Homo sapiens: one gene and its partners. The protein of the gene in region 2 interacts with the protein of the main gene of each other region in a biochemical or structural test. Each region holds a gene or a part of one and is shown on either strand. Other genes may lie near its edges.

Region 1 (3,500 bases), on a different chromosome or scaffold from region 2:
CTCATTGTATTAGTTCATTCTCACACTGCTAATAAAAACATACCTGAGACTGGGTAATTTATAAAGGAAAGAGTTTTAATTGACTCACAGTTCCACAGGGCTGGGGAGGCCTCAGGATCCCTGCAATTATGGCCGAAGGGGAAGCAAACCCGTCCTTCTTCTCATGGTGGCAGGAAGGGGAAGGAGTGCCAAGCAAAGGGGGAAGCCCCTTATAAAACCACCAGATGTCATGAGAACTCACTCACTATCTGGAGAACAGCATGGGGGAAACTGCCTGCATGATTCAATTATCTCCACCTGGTCCTGCCCTTGACATGTGGGGATTATTACAATTCTAGGTGAGATTTGGGTGGGGACACAGAGCCAAACAATATGACTCATGAACCTTCCTGCCTTTCTTAGGAGACACTCATCCCAGCTGCACGTGTAACTTGGTAAGGTTTTGAGGTCATTTAGAAGTAGCCAGGTAAATTATTATTGTCATCTACTCAGATTTATCCTGCAGTCTTCAGCCAACGCTGAATGCCATGGTTGGTAGCATTTCCCAAATGGTGGTAGCATCAGTGAAGTCCAAGAACCAGTTCCTGTGCTGATGTTAAGATTCTTGAAGGACTTAAATAGTAGTATGATACAAATGAGTTACAAGATCATTGAAAATTTTTGTCAGCATTAGGGAACTCTATAATCTACTAATTATTATTATTATTATTGCAAATAATTAGTTTAAATCAAATGGCAATTGTCCAGTCCAGATAAATATTGTTTTTACTACTTCTCCCTTTGGAAAGAGATAATATATTGTGTTCTAATCAAGGAGGACTTGGTTAACAAGGAGCTATCTCCCCGCTTATGTGGGGACAGGAAATATATTGCTGTTATGCTTTGGTGCTTCAGGATCTTAAATGGTTGAGACTGTCATTATGACCTTTGATATATGTTAGAAATGCCCAGGAAGCTGTGGAAGGTGGATTGTCTGCAAGATGTGCAGAATATCCTGGTAGTGTCCACATAATGTAAAAGCACAAGTGTTTGAGCTACTTGTGGTTTTTCTTATTTGGAGTGGAGAAGAGTAAAACAATTTTACTTGCACGCACACACACTATACACATACCCAGATGATTGATAGACATACCAGGGGTTTTGTGCTTACTTTGCCTTCAGCCTCTCAGAGACTGATTACGTTTGGAAAATTGAAATAGCCCAACAGGAACCTTACAGAGGATGTTAACCTCAGAAGCTTTTTAGTTTCTTCTTTTGTATTTGTCCTGTATTTACGTCTTTCAGTAAAGTAAAAACTCAGTTATTGACTTGAATTGCTTTGGAAGCATTGAAGTCTTCCACCAAATTGATTCATTACTGTACTAATTCAGTTCATTCCAGTGGTCTGAATCTCCTATTCCATGGTTTAATCATCACTCTGGCTCCTTCTGCATATGAAGCTATTGCATCTTACTGGTCCTACATTGAAGTGTATTGTATCTGTTTGTACAACCGATCATACATTTTAAGTTTTTATATTTCTCCATCTACCTTGTTTCTTCACAGAGCTACAGGCAACCAGCTGCTTTCATCGTCACACAATACCCTCTGCCAAACACTGTAAAAGACTTCTGGAGATTAGTGTATGATTATGGCTGTACCTCCATTGTGATGTTAAACGAAGTCGACTTGTCCCAGGTTAATGGCTATGGATTGCTTTTATGTACTTATATACAACTTAATAGAGTAGTAATGAATTGCTAAAATCTGCTTTATACTCTCCTAACTAGAAAAAATAATACTCTTTTTTTTTTTCTTTCAAAACGTTCATCATTTAGGGCTGCCCTCAGTACTGGCCAGAGGAAGGGATGCTACGATATGGCCCCATCCAAGTGGAATGTATGTCTTGTTCAATGGACTGTGATGTGATCAACCGGATTTTTAGGATATGCAATCTAACAAGAGTAAGTCACTATCGGATCCTTTGAGCTGATCTAGAATAGGTCAGTCATAACCAAGATGTGGTATAATTTTATTCAGACAACAGGGAGACTACAATTAATAAGCACTATATCATCCACCTCAAAGCTAGTAACCATCTTATGCCTTAGTACTCGAATAAAAATACAGGAAAACAGAAATGCTGGAAGCTAGGTTTTTCGGTCAGTCACTAGACTAGCATATTCTCTCAGGAAATACAGATGCACTGGCTCAGTCAAGTTGGACAGCCTAGGCCTGGCCTCTGAGTGTATGTAGACTTATCTTAAGGATGACTGCATGTTTTATTAGTATTGACATCCAGCCCAGAAATGGCATGTGATAAAAAAAATAAGAACATTGCAATAACAATAATGACAGAGAAACTGTACTGCAGGAGGAAAGAGACATGTTGGATCAACCATTATAGAAGGGTTCCATGTCACTGTTCCAAGTTCATTATTGATTATCCTACCTGCAATTTCATCTTCCTAAACGTCTCAACCTATGGCTCTAAGCAGATCTAAAGGTAGAACCAGTGCTGCTACCACCATGCCTTTTCCCAGCAGCAAAGTAGTAACTGTATCGTCTTTCTCTGACTCCTCATTTGCTTTCCACTACATGACAAATTCAATGTGGGTGGGGAAGATCTTAAAAAAAAAAGTGCTAATAAAGCCCGGGCACAGTGCCTCATGCCTGTAATTCCAGCACTTTGGGAGGCCAAGGCGGGCAGATCATAAGGTCAGGAGTTCAAGACCAGCCTGGCAACGTGGTGAAACCCCATCTCTACTAAAAATACAAAAATTAGCTGGACATGGTGGTGGCATGCCTGTAGTCCCAGCTAGTGGGGAGGCTGAGGCAGCAGAATCATTTGAACCCGGGAGGCAGAAGTTGTAGTGAGCTGAGATCACGCCACTGCACCCCAGGCTGTATAGAGCGAGACTTCGTCCCCCAAAAAAAGATATTAATAAAAACAATTTAGATTATGTAACCAAATAACAAGCAGAATTGGAAAAGAAAACATTAGTAACTTTCATGAAATTAAGCTCTTTTTAGAGAGAAACATTACTCTGTTTTTTAAAGCACCAGCTCTGTGGGTATGTATTTTAAGTGTGTGATTAGGATTATCATGTTTCAGTGTCTCTCATATCAAAATGACTACGTGTGTGTCTGGTTAATAAGTCTATATGTATATAACTATGAGCAGGGAATGGAATCATATCGACTCCTATTGCTCATTTCAGTGGAGAAAAAAAGGATAACTTCAATCATCTCATAATATTCATGCATATCTTAGATGTTAATTTAAATGGAATCTCATTATGTCTGCACATCTGTTACATTATGGTTCTAGTAATATTTGAGTTGGAAAAAAACAGAACTGCTGAAGACAGTAAGGCTTGTCTGTTAATTGAGCAGTTTATGTGAAAAATATTCTAGGAACAGGAACTGAAATGTTATATTTTTGTCAGCATATTTATTTATTTGTTTGCTTACTTATTGAACTGCCTCTGTATTTGGTATTCTGGTCCTTATTAGTACAT
Region 2 (3,296 bases):
CGAAGCACCTGAAACAAAGTTGCGCCATCTTTTCTTAGACTCATGACACATTCGCAGTCACAGGAGACCCAGATTCATCTGGAGATGATTTCAGGAATCAGCAGTACTCTTCATTTTTTTAGTTTTAGCACAACTTTGTTACTACAAAGAAGAAACTATATGACGGATACTGAGGCTAAGAAAAGCTACATGGTTGGTTATGTAGAGTTAATAAGCTATTTTTTAGTTGTTGAATTAACCTCAACTTGGTATCTTCTACTTTGCTGTGACTTTAGTAGCCTTTTACACCTTCAACAGGTGAATTGGTTGTCATTTGAACTCTGATGAATGGCCCTGTCCAGTCTCACAGCGATGCCTCACAGGCATCAGCACAGGGCACGCCTGGCCCAAGTGCCTATGATGGCCAGCGGGCTTGGGTCTTTTGGAACCCAGTGTACATAGTTCTGGAAAACCCCATTCACTTCCTCCAAATGATGTGATCTGCTTTGTTTTGTGTGAGAATGCTGGTCAAGGAGCAGGTAACACATTCAGTGACCTAGCAGAGCATTGATGAAGTGTGAAACCGAACACTGCCTTCTCATGAAGCAAGTGCAGAGTTGTTAGAAGGTACCATTAACCCATCTTCATTTCTTCTGATGTATTTAGATGGATCCTGAATACCGTGTGAGAAAATTCTTGGCCCTCTTAAGAGAAGAAGGAGCGTAAGTACATACAACATTTAATGACCATCAACCAAACTTACCACCCTGTTAAATCCCTGTGCCTATTCTAAGAGTTGCTTTCCTAGATAAGTTTGTTTCCATTTATTTGAATTCTTCGCTGTGTTGTAGGTCCGAGAGACCAAGCAAGGAAGTTGGTTGTACTGTTGGTTTGCTCTCCCTGTCCTGCTTCGCAAAACTTCCTTGTCACAATGCAGGAAAAACTTAATGGTACATATTTATTGGAACCTGCTTTTACATGCATGGAGCTGTGACCATTTTCTTTTGTGAAGTGCTCATCTAATAGCAAATGCATAGTGGGAAATGTAGGATAACCATTAAGAAGCTTTTAGTGATTTTTTTTTTTTTTTTTTTGATGAATAGTTTTTTACGGACCCTCATCTGTTTTTTTGTGTTTTGGTATTTCTTTTGCAGTAGCCCCCTTGATTTTGATTGAAAATGAACTATTTGAAACACACAGTGACCAAGGGAAGTGACCAAGGTGAAGATGGCCTAGGATCTTCACTGTCTTACTCAAGATACTGGACTAAGTGGAACGTTCTCTACCTTCAACATGTGCTCGCTCTGCATGATTAGTGCAATAAAACTCCCTTCCTTATGCATACTGAGATAGCTTAGTGTCTCGTGGAAGGTGTCAATTTGGTTTAGAATGCTGCGCTTACCTTCCCATGCAGGCTAAAGTGATTCCTTCTTGCTCAGTCCCTCTGGGTGGGAACCATCCAGTACTTGTGGACACTACACGTTTCAACCTCTCTACTAGCACCATCACCCTTGAAAACTCTCAGTCAGTGTCATGAATGTTGCATGACAACAGTTGGCCGATTAGAAGGCAGACTTTCTACATGCAAATCTGGCTTAGTAAATCGAGGTGTGGGCCAGAGATCCTCTGACAGCTGTCCTGAGCTAACACTAAAAGTCACTGGGTATTTGGTTAAAGGTCTCCCACAAGACTGGTATTCTCTTTGCCTGAAGAAACAAGGCATTGAATCTCTAAAATGCTGTTCTCAATCATTGTCAGAGATGTTTTCAAGTTGCAGTCAGAAGATCTTTCTTAATAGAAAGTCAGATGACTACCGTGTTGGTTGTGACTTCCCCTTAAGTATAACTAATTTGCTCTGTGGTAAGAGATATGCTCATTATTACCACTTAGAAGATGTTGTTAAAAACATGTGAAAGATAGGTATGGAAAAAGCATACACCCCCAAACAGAAAGGAGTTATTAAAGTAATTTACAAACCTCTCAGCACTAATTAGTGTCCAACTCCAAGTGGGTCAATTCCTTAGTATAATATTAAGGCTTACTAGTATCACTGCTTTTTCCTTAGCTTAATGACTTACTTAGAATTTATCCTTTATTTTAAATGATCTGTACTATCTAGTGTCTAAAACACTATTCTCCAGAAAAATCAATCATTTTCTAGCCCTCTCCCTCAGTCCTTTATTGTCCATTCCAATACATTGAACACATTTCCTTTACCCTCCACACACTTCTTCCAAAAGGAAGCACCCGTTGAGTCCTTTTGAGGGTGATTTGTCTTACAACTGACTGACTTAGCAGGAATTTAATTAGGTCATATTTGGTGATGAGACTTATGGAGTGTGCCTCTCTCTCCCAACTGCTGCTTAAAATGCAAGGACAAGCAATTAGAAGCCATCCTAAGGTGCTTACCTCACACGCCACCCATGAGGCTTGTGGCCACAGTGGCACTTGGGTGTGGCTCCTCTGTTATTTGTCCTCATGTGAGAAAGCAGATCATCTCCAAATCTTGCCATTTGTATACTTTTGGTGGAGACTTGGATGTCATATCTTCTTTGTTTTGGGTTTTCTTCCCTAGCTTATTTTGTGGCTTTTAAAGAAGTGGATTGTATTGTGAGATCCTGTGATTCCTGGTGGCCAGTATCCTGGATTCCTCTAAGATCTTGCCTCTTTCCTCCTCATGAAAGCAGCACACATTGTGTTAACTTATGTCTCTTGTTAAATGAGCTTAATGTCTTTGTGTTTTGTCCAAAACTGTATTGAAAAAATATTGTTTAATGCAAATGAAGGAATGCAATAAAGAGTAAATATACTTGAAAATGTTCTGTAGACCAGTGTTTCATATAGAACGACATGAACAGCTGATAGGAATGGAGGAAGAAGGAGGGGGCTCAGGAAAGAAACCTCTCCGTGTTTTGTTACAAGTAGCATAACATGAGGGATGATTTTTATTTTAAAAATCTCTTATTTAGAAAGTATAGTTATTTAAAAACATCATTAGAGTATCAGAAAAAGTTAATATACAACCATCTTTATGCTTTATACTTATTTTATCTTACTAAAAAAAAAAAATGCCTGGCACGGTGGCTCATGCCTGTAATCCGAGAGGGAGGCTGAGGTGGGTGGATCACTTGAGGTCAGTAGTTCAAAACCAGCCTGGCCAACATGGTGAAACCCTGTCTCTACTAAAAATGCAAAAAACAGCCGGGTGTGGTGGCACATGCCTATAATCCCAGCTACTCAGGAGGCTGAGGCAGGAGAATTGCTTGAACCTGGGAGGCAGAGGTTGCAGTGAGCCAGGATCACGCCACTTGCACTCA
Region 3 (3,500 bases), on a different chromosome or scaffold from region 2:
ACTTGATTCCCAAATTCACTTCTCTTATTTGTACATATTGTTTGGGTCTATCTGTTAGGAGACTTTATCTGATAGGAGACTTCATTTTAAGGTTTTTAAAAAAATTTTTTTTTTAGTGTTTTTTGTTTTGAGACAGGGTCTCACTGTGTCACCCAGACTGGAATGCAGCGACGTGATCGCAGCTCACTATATAGCCTTGGCCTCACTGCTGGGCTTAGTGATCCACCTACCTCAGCCTCCCAAGTAGCTGAGAGCACAGGCTTACGCCTCAATGTCCAGCTAGTTTTTGTATTTTTTTGTAGAGACAGGGTTCTGCTATATTGTTCAGGCTGGTCTTGAACCCCTAGGCTAAAGCGATCCGTCCACCTCAGCCTCTCAAACTACTGGCATTACAGGTGTGAGCCACTGCCTAACTTTTTCAAGACTATTTTTTTTAGAGCAGTTTTAGGTTTACAGCAAAATTGAGAGGAAGGTACAGAGATTTCTTATATACACCCTGTCCCCACACATGTAGCCCTCATTATCAACATTCCCTACCAGAGCAGTCTCTTTGTTACAATTCACAAACCTACATTGACAAGTCATTATCACCAAGAGTTCACATTTTACATTAGGGTTCATTCTTGGTGCTATACATTCTGTGGGTTTGAAGAAATATATGATGACGTGTATCCACCATTGTGGTATCATACAGAATAGTGTCATTGCTCTAAAAGTCCTGTGCTCCACCTATTCATTCATCTCACCCCCTTCCCAACCCTAGGTAGTCATTATTTTTACTGTCTCCATAGTTTTGCCTTTTTCAGAAGTCATATAGTTTGTTTTTGTTTGTTTGTTTGTTTGTTTTGAGACGGAGTCTTGCTCTGTCGCCCAGGCTGGAGTGCGGTGGCACTATCTCAGCTCACTATAACCTCTGCCTCCTGGGTTCAAGCAATTCTACTGCCTCAACCTCCTGAGTAGCTGGGATTACAGGTGCGCGCCACCACACACAGCTAAGTTTTGTATTTTCGTAGAGATGGGGTTTTACCATGTTGGCCAGGCTGGTCTCGAACTCCTGACCTCAAGTGATCCACCTGCCTCAGCCTCCTGAAGTGCTGGAATTACAGGCATGAGCCACTGCTCCCAGCTCAGAAGTCATATAGTTTGAATCATACAGTATGTAGCCTTTTCAGATTGGCTTATTTCACTTAGTAATGTGCATTTAGGGTTCATCCATGTCTTTTCATGGCTTACTAGCTCTTTTTTTCCTTTTATTATTTTTAATTGACACATAGTATCTATACTTATTAATGGGGTACATGTGATTTTGGTACATGTATGTGTAATTTAAAATGTGGAGTGACTAAATCAGGATAATTAGCATGTCTATCACTTCAAACATTTCAAATGTTTGATGACTTTTAGAATTTTTTTATAATTATCAGGTACATCTGGAATTTTAAAGATTAATTTTATATTGTGGACTTTGATACAAGTATTTTATTTGTTTTGATGTGTCTTTTTGTTTTAACGTTTTCACTGACTTAGAAATGTTTCTCTTTATTTAGGAGGATGAACAAGCAAGAACAGACTACTTCATCAGGACACTCTTACTTGAATTTCAAAATGTAGGTACTTACCATTTATAGACTATCTGTAAGAATAGTTTTCAGGCTGGGTGCAGTGGCTCATGCCTGTAATCCCAACACTTTGGGAGGCTGAAGTGGGAGGGTGACTTGAGTCCAGGGGTTCAAGACTAGCCTGGGCAACATAGTGAGATCTTGTGTCTACAAAAAGAAAAAAGTTAGCCGGGCATGGTGGCATGTGCCCATAGTCCCACTCACTCAGAAGGCTGAGCCCGGGAGGTTGAGGCTGCAGTGAGCCATGATTGTGCCACTGCACTCCAGCCTGGGCAACAGAGGGAGACTCTCAAAAATGGTTTTGAGAATAGAGAATAGTTTTCAAAGAGAAGACATAGAGAGGGAGGGGAGCGTGGGCTGAAAAACCACCTATTGGGTAGTATGCTCACTCCTTTGGTAAGGATCATTTGTATTCCAGACCTCAGCATTATACAATACACCCATGTAAGCTGCACATGTACCCCTTAATCCAAAATAAAAGTTGAGGCCAGGTATGGTGGCTCACTCCTGTAATCCCCAACACTTTGGGTGGCTGAGGTGGGTTGGTCACTTGAGGCCAGGAGTTCAAGACCAGCCTGGCCAACACGGCGAAGCCCCATCTCTACTAAAAAATACTAAAATTAGCTGGGCATGGTGGTGCACACCTATAATCCCAGCTACTCAGGAGGCTGAGGCACTTGAATTGCTTGAGCCTGGGAGACAGAGGTTGCAATAAGCCGAGATGGTGCCACTGCACTCTAGCCTGGGCAACAGAGCAAGACTCTGTCTCAAAAAATAAAATAAAAAATAAAATAAATGTTTTAAAAATAGAAAATATAATACTACTACCTAAATGTTTTATTTGGTAAAATGGGTTTGCTAGAAAATTATTTTGCTTTATATCTGCAAAATGCAAATAATATATATAATATATATTATTATTTTGCTTTATATCTGCTTTATAGTTTTTTGTAAGTAAAAAAAGTAACAGCAATTTTTATTTTTAAAGCATGTGAAGTTAGTTTTTGTCTTTGCAAACTAATCAACTTTTAGCTACTAAAAAAATAAAACAAGCTATATAAATAGTATACTATGTTATTTAACATAATTAATGAAATTTGGTAATTTTTTAGTTACGAAGATGAAATGAGAGTGTAATATTTAGTCTTGACATTTATGCTTATCACATTACATAAAAAGTAATATTAATTATAACATACCCTAAATTTGTTAAATTTGGAATAGTTATACCTTCTTTGCAGCAAATATTTTTATTCTATTGCAGTAAGCAGGTTATTGCATTGTTTATATAATTATTACCCTGTTTTACTGGTTTACAATTTGTTAAAGAAAAGTCACTATCAAAGCTAAGTCTTCATTTAGATATATATTGTTTTTAGTTGAAACCCCCCACAGCGCCCCGACTTTTTTTTTTTTTTTTTTGGCAACAGGGTCTCACTATATATTGCCCAGGCTGGACTCAAACTCCTGAGCTCAAGCAGTCCTCCCATCTCCACCTTCCTAGTATCTGAGACTATAGGGATGAGCCACCAAACCCAGCTAAATTTTTTATAGTTTATAGAGATGAAGTCTTGCCATGTTGCTCAGGCTGCTGTCAAATTCCTGGCCTTGAGTGATCTTGCCTTTTGCATTGGCCACCCAAAGTGTTGGGATTACAGATGTGAGCCACTGAATCTGGACTGGTTGCTAATTTTTTAATCTACGGTAATAATAATAAGTACCTTAATGAATTTCTGTGGTAGATCAGGCATCTTAATTCTGCTAACTGCATCATATCCAGATACTGTTACGTCTGTTGCACATAGATGAAGATACAGAAGCTTTAAGAAGTTAAATAGCTTACCTGAAGTTATTTAGGAAATGGCCAAAGTAGGAATTTGA
Region 4 (3,500 bases), on a different chromosome or scaffold from region 2:
AAATTGCTTTGTCGTGGCTGGTTGTTAATTTGCTTGCAGTTAAAACTGTCACCACGAAGTGGCAGTATAATGTTGTTAAACTGCTCAGTGTAAAGCGGTTATAGTAGAGAAAAAATTACATTATTCACTTTTTATAATTCAGTACCTTATGAACACAAGCTGTGCAACAGTGTTAGGTGGTTATATTATATAATTTTGTGAAGGTAAAAATTCTTCATATTTTTAGTTATGATTTGTGGGATCAGACGATGCAGGACCACAAAGGAGTTAAATCTGTTCCAACCCTTTCATTTGACATATACTCAAATTCAGAGGTTGTCATTTGCGTAAAGTTATATGGATCTGAAAATTTCTGGAACCAGAATTAATATCTTAGTTTCCCCATTCCTGGTTGGTATAATGAATAATTAAAATACTAATCACAGCAGTGGTGATAATAATAATAGCCTAAAATTCACTATGCTCTTCCTGGGTTTCAGGCACAGATTATTTTATTTACTTCTCCAGGCAGCCCACAAGGTCAGTGTTACTGTTGTTCCCGTTTTACAGATGAGGAAACCGAGGCTCAGTGAGTTAAAGTAATGTGTCCAGCATCACCCAGCAGGCAAGCTAAAATTAGACTAATAGCTCAGAGCAGCACTTCTTGTTTTCCTAAGATACCTTATGTGAGTAAAACCCCCAGACTTGAGCCCCAGTTTAGTATGGTGGTAAGAACAAGCCGAGTCTTAGACCCAGGCAGCCCTGCATTTGTGCCTTCCAGGTCATGTACCTTGTGTAAGCTCTTTAACATCTCTGTGTCTGAGTTTCCTCACCTGCAAAATGGGGTGATGATCATGCCTGCCTCCAGAGTAGCATGGAAAGCCCTGGCACACGGTTGGCATTTGTTAATTGGAATTCTTGTTATTGTTGTTGATGTTGTTGTCATCTGTATGGGCTCAGATTTTCCCACGGATCAACTTAGAAACTGCAAGGTACAGTGACTCTGCAGTGCCCAACATGGAGATGCAGAGATGTAAACCAGTGCCCAGAGCATGCAGTGCAGAGCATGGCTCCTGCCTCTGACCCTGTCATTGCAGACCTGGGCAGGCTGCTTTCCCTCCTTGTCCACCCACTTCCTCACTGGGAGACAGTGGGGTTGGACTGGATCACCCAGTATCTTTCCAGACCTAGAGCTGAGTATCTACTCAAGTGTCAGTGATATACATAAAATCAAAGGTCTTCTGCCTCTCATCACCCCAAGAACAGATGACCATCTGATTTTTCCAGTTCATGACTTCTTTGTTGTGTAAGTCAGCTTTAACACTACTTAGTTTTTTTGGCACCTAGCCTCATCTTGGGTAATATCAGTGAAAAGCTGAGTTTGATCGACTAGTTATGCATTTTAACATGTTCACAATTATAAAACCATTAAAAATAAAAGTTGATCACCCATGGACCACCTAATGTCAACTTTATGCCATACATTGGAAAACTCCATAGCATAGATGAGTAAAATCCTCAGAGGGTGACAACCAGGGCCTCATTCCCAATCTCAATTACTGATGCTTCTCTGCTTTTTCTTCTTCTGCCTCTTTTCCACCCTTGCCGGGTGACCCTTTCCAGCCCACAGCGTCTCCTGCCTCTTCAGCCGACATGGCCCCCATCAGCTCGGGGTCTTCTACCTGGACGTCCTCTGGCATCCCATTCTCATTTGTTTCCATGGCAACTGGGATGGGCCCCTCCTCCAGTGGCAGCCAGGCCACAGTGGCCTCGGTGGTCACCAGCACGCTGCTCGCCGGCCTGGGGTTCGGCGGTGGTGGCATCTCCTCTTTCCCCAGCACTGTGTGGCCCACGCGCCTCCCGACGGCCGCCTCAGCCAGCAAGCAGGCGGCTAGGCCAGTCCTAGCCACCACAGAGGCCTTGGCTTCTCCAGGGCCCGATGGTGATTCGTCACCAACCAAGGACGGCGAGGGCACCGAGGAAGGAGAGAAGGATGAGAAAAGCGAGAGTGAGGATGGGGAGCGGGAGCACGAGGAGGATGGAGAGAAGGACTCCGAAAAGAAGGAGAAGAGTGGGGTGACCCACGCTGCCGAGGAGCGGAATCAGACGGAGCCCAGCCCCACACCCTCGTCTCCTAACAGGACTGCCGAGGGAGGGCATCAGACTATACCTGGGCATGAGCAGGATCACACTGCCGTCCCCACAGACCAGACGGGCGGAAGGAGGGATGCCGGCCCAGGCCTGGACCCCGACATGGTCACCTCCACCCAAGTGCCCCCCACCGCCACAGAGGAGCAGTATGCAGGGAGTGATCCCAAGAGGCCCGAAATGCCATCTAAAAAGCCTATGTCCCGCGGGGACCGATTTTCTGAAGACAGCAGATTTATCACTGTTAATCCAGGTAAGTGGTGCAGGTCTTCTTCGAGGGTTCCTGCTCCTGTGAATAGTCGTACCCTTTTTCAAAAAATTGGGAGCAGAAGGTGAAGCTTCAGAAGGTACTTAATATTCTTAGAATCATATATGTCTGTCATAGAAAAGGTGCACACATGTGAAATGTGTATGTGTGTGTCCCTGTTTTACTCCAAAAGCCTACTCTCTTACGCTGGAGTAAGTCTTTCTTTGATATTTGTTTTCTTGCCTCGGAATAACTCCAGGGACTTCAACCAGGCAATGATATACATGAATAAAAAAAGCCATCGATCTTAAGAAGTTTATTTATTAAGATTTCATTCCATATTCATTATATAATGTATCTACAAATGGCTAGTTTGGTGCCAGGGACTGGGCAGGGTGCTGTCCCAGGGGATCCTAGTCCCTGCCTAAAAAGTTTAAAGGGGAAGGCAGACAGATGACAAGACAGTAGCTAGCTGGAGCGCATGCCCAGAAGTTAGGTAGCAGGAACGTTAGAAAGCCAGCAAGCTAGATGGTGGTTAGTCGGCAAGCTAGATGGTTAACTGGCAAGCTGGAAAACTAACTAACTGAAGTTTTCGATTGTGAAATGGTAATAGAGGAAATAAACAGGATGCTGTCCAAGAGAATTATGGAGAGGATAGGGACCTACCTTAATTAAGAAAGGCCACTCTGGAGAAGTGGCTTGTTCATGGAAACCTACAGAATGAAAGGCTTCAGCCTGGGGAGAGCTGGTATTGGCCCATGGTCCTTGCCCAAGAAATACGGCCCTCTCTCCCAGAGCTCCCATTGCTGTGGGAATGAGCCAGTGTATAGACAGTGAGGCCAGGGCATGAGATCCTCATCTCCTGGTGGCAATTTTGTTGCTCTATCATATGCTCAAATCTTAATGAACCATCCTGATAGTTTCTGCAAGGGAGCCATAAGCATGAGGAGTTGTTATTGTTGTGAGGGCTTTTCTTAATAAGAAATTCTTCATTTTGCCAGACTACAAGATGTTTAGCAACAATTTTTTTTGCGTCTAAGCTGTTGTGGAGTTATAAGAGTGCAAAAAAAAAGCAACTGGTAAATATTTATTTGCTTTTGCACTTGTAAACATTAAAATTCATCTA

The links.
Region 1: of the proteins of NSF (region 2) and PTPRK, one has a biochemical effect on the other in vitro, tested with the Homo sapiens proteins (one large-scale study listed by IntAct).
Region 3: of the proteins of NSF (region 2) and PTPN12, one has a biochemical effect on the other in vitro, tested with the Homo sapiens proteins (one large-scale study listed by IntAct).
Region 4: of the proteins of NSF (region 2) and PTPRG, one has a biochemical effect on the other in vitro, tested with the Homo sapiens proteins (one large-scale study listed by IntAct).

Annotation. Positions count from the first base shown.
Region 1 is NC_000006.12:127,975,100-127,978,599, reverse strand, and holds part of PTPRK (receptor-type tyrosine-protein phosphatase kappa isoform b precursor), read left to right. Parts: intron 1-1,545; coding exon 1,546-1,677; intron 1,678-1,817; coding exon 1,818-1,943; intron 1,944-3,500. UniProt on the Homo sapiens protein: Regulation of processes involving cell contact and adhesion such as growth control, tumor invasion, and metastasis. Negative regulator of EGFR signaling pathway. Forms complexes with beta-catenin and gamma-catenin/plakoglobin.
Region 2 is NC_000017.11:46,754,669-46,757,964, forward strand, and holds the end of NSF (vesicle-fusing ATPase), read left to right. Parts: intron 1-645; coding exon 646-701; exon of another isoform or gene 702-705; intron 706-1,133; coding exon 1,134-1,155; 3' UTR 1,156-2,796; downstream 2,797-3,296.
Region 3 is NC_000007.14:77,596,295-77,599,794, forward strand, and holds part of PTPN12 (tyrosine-protein phosphatase non-receptor type 12), read left to right. Parts: intron 1-1,547; coding exon 1,548-1,607; intron 1,608-3,500. UniProt on the Homo sapiens protein: Dephosphorylates a range of proteins, and thereby regulates cellular signaling cascades. Dephosphorylates cellular tyrosine kinases, such as ERBB2 and PTK2B/PYK2, and thereby regulates signaling via ERBB2 and PTK2B/PYK2.
Region 4 is NC_000003.12:62,201,571-62,205,070, forward strand, and holds part of PTPRG (receptor-type tyrosine-protein phosphatase gamma isoform 1 precursor), read left to right. Parts: intron 1-1,602; coding exon 1,603-2,380; intron 2,381-3,500.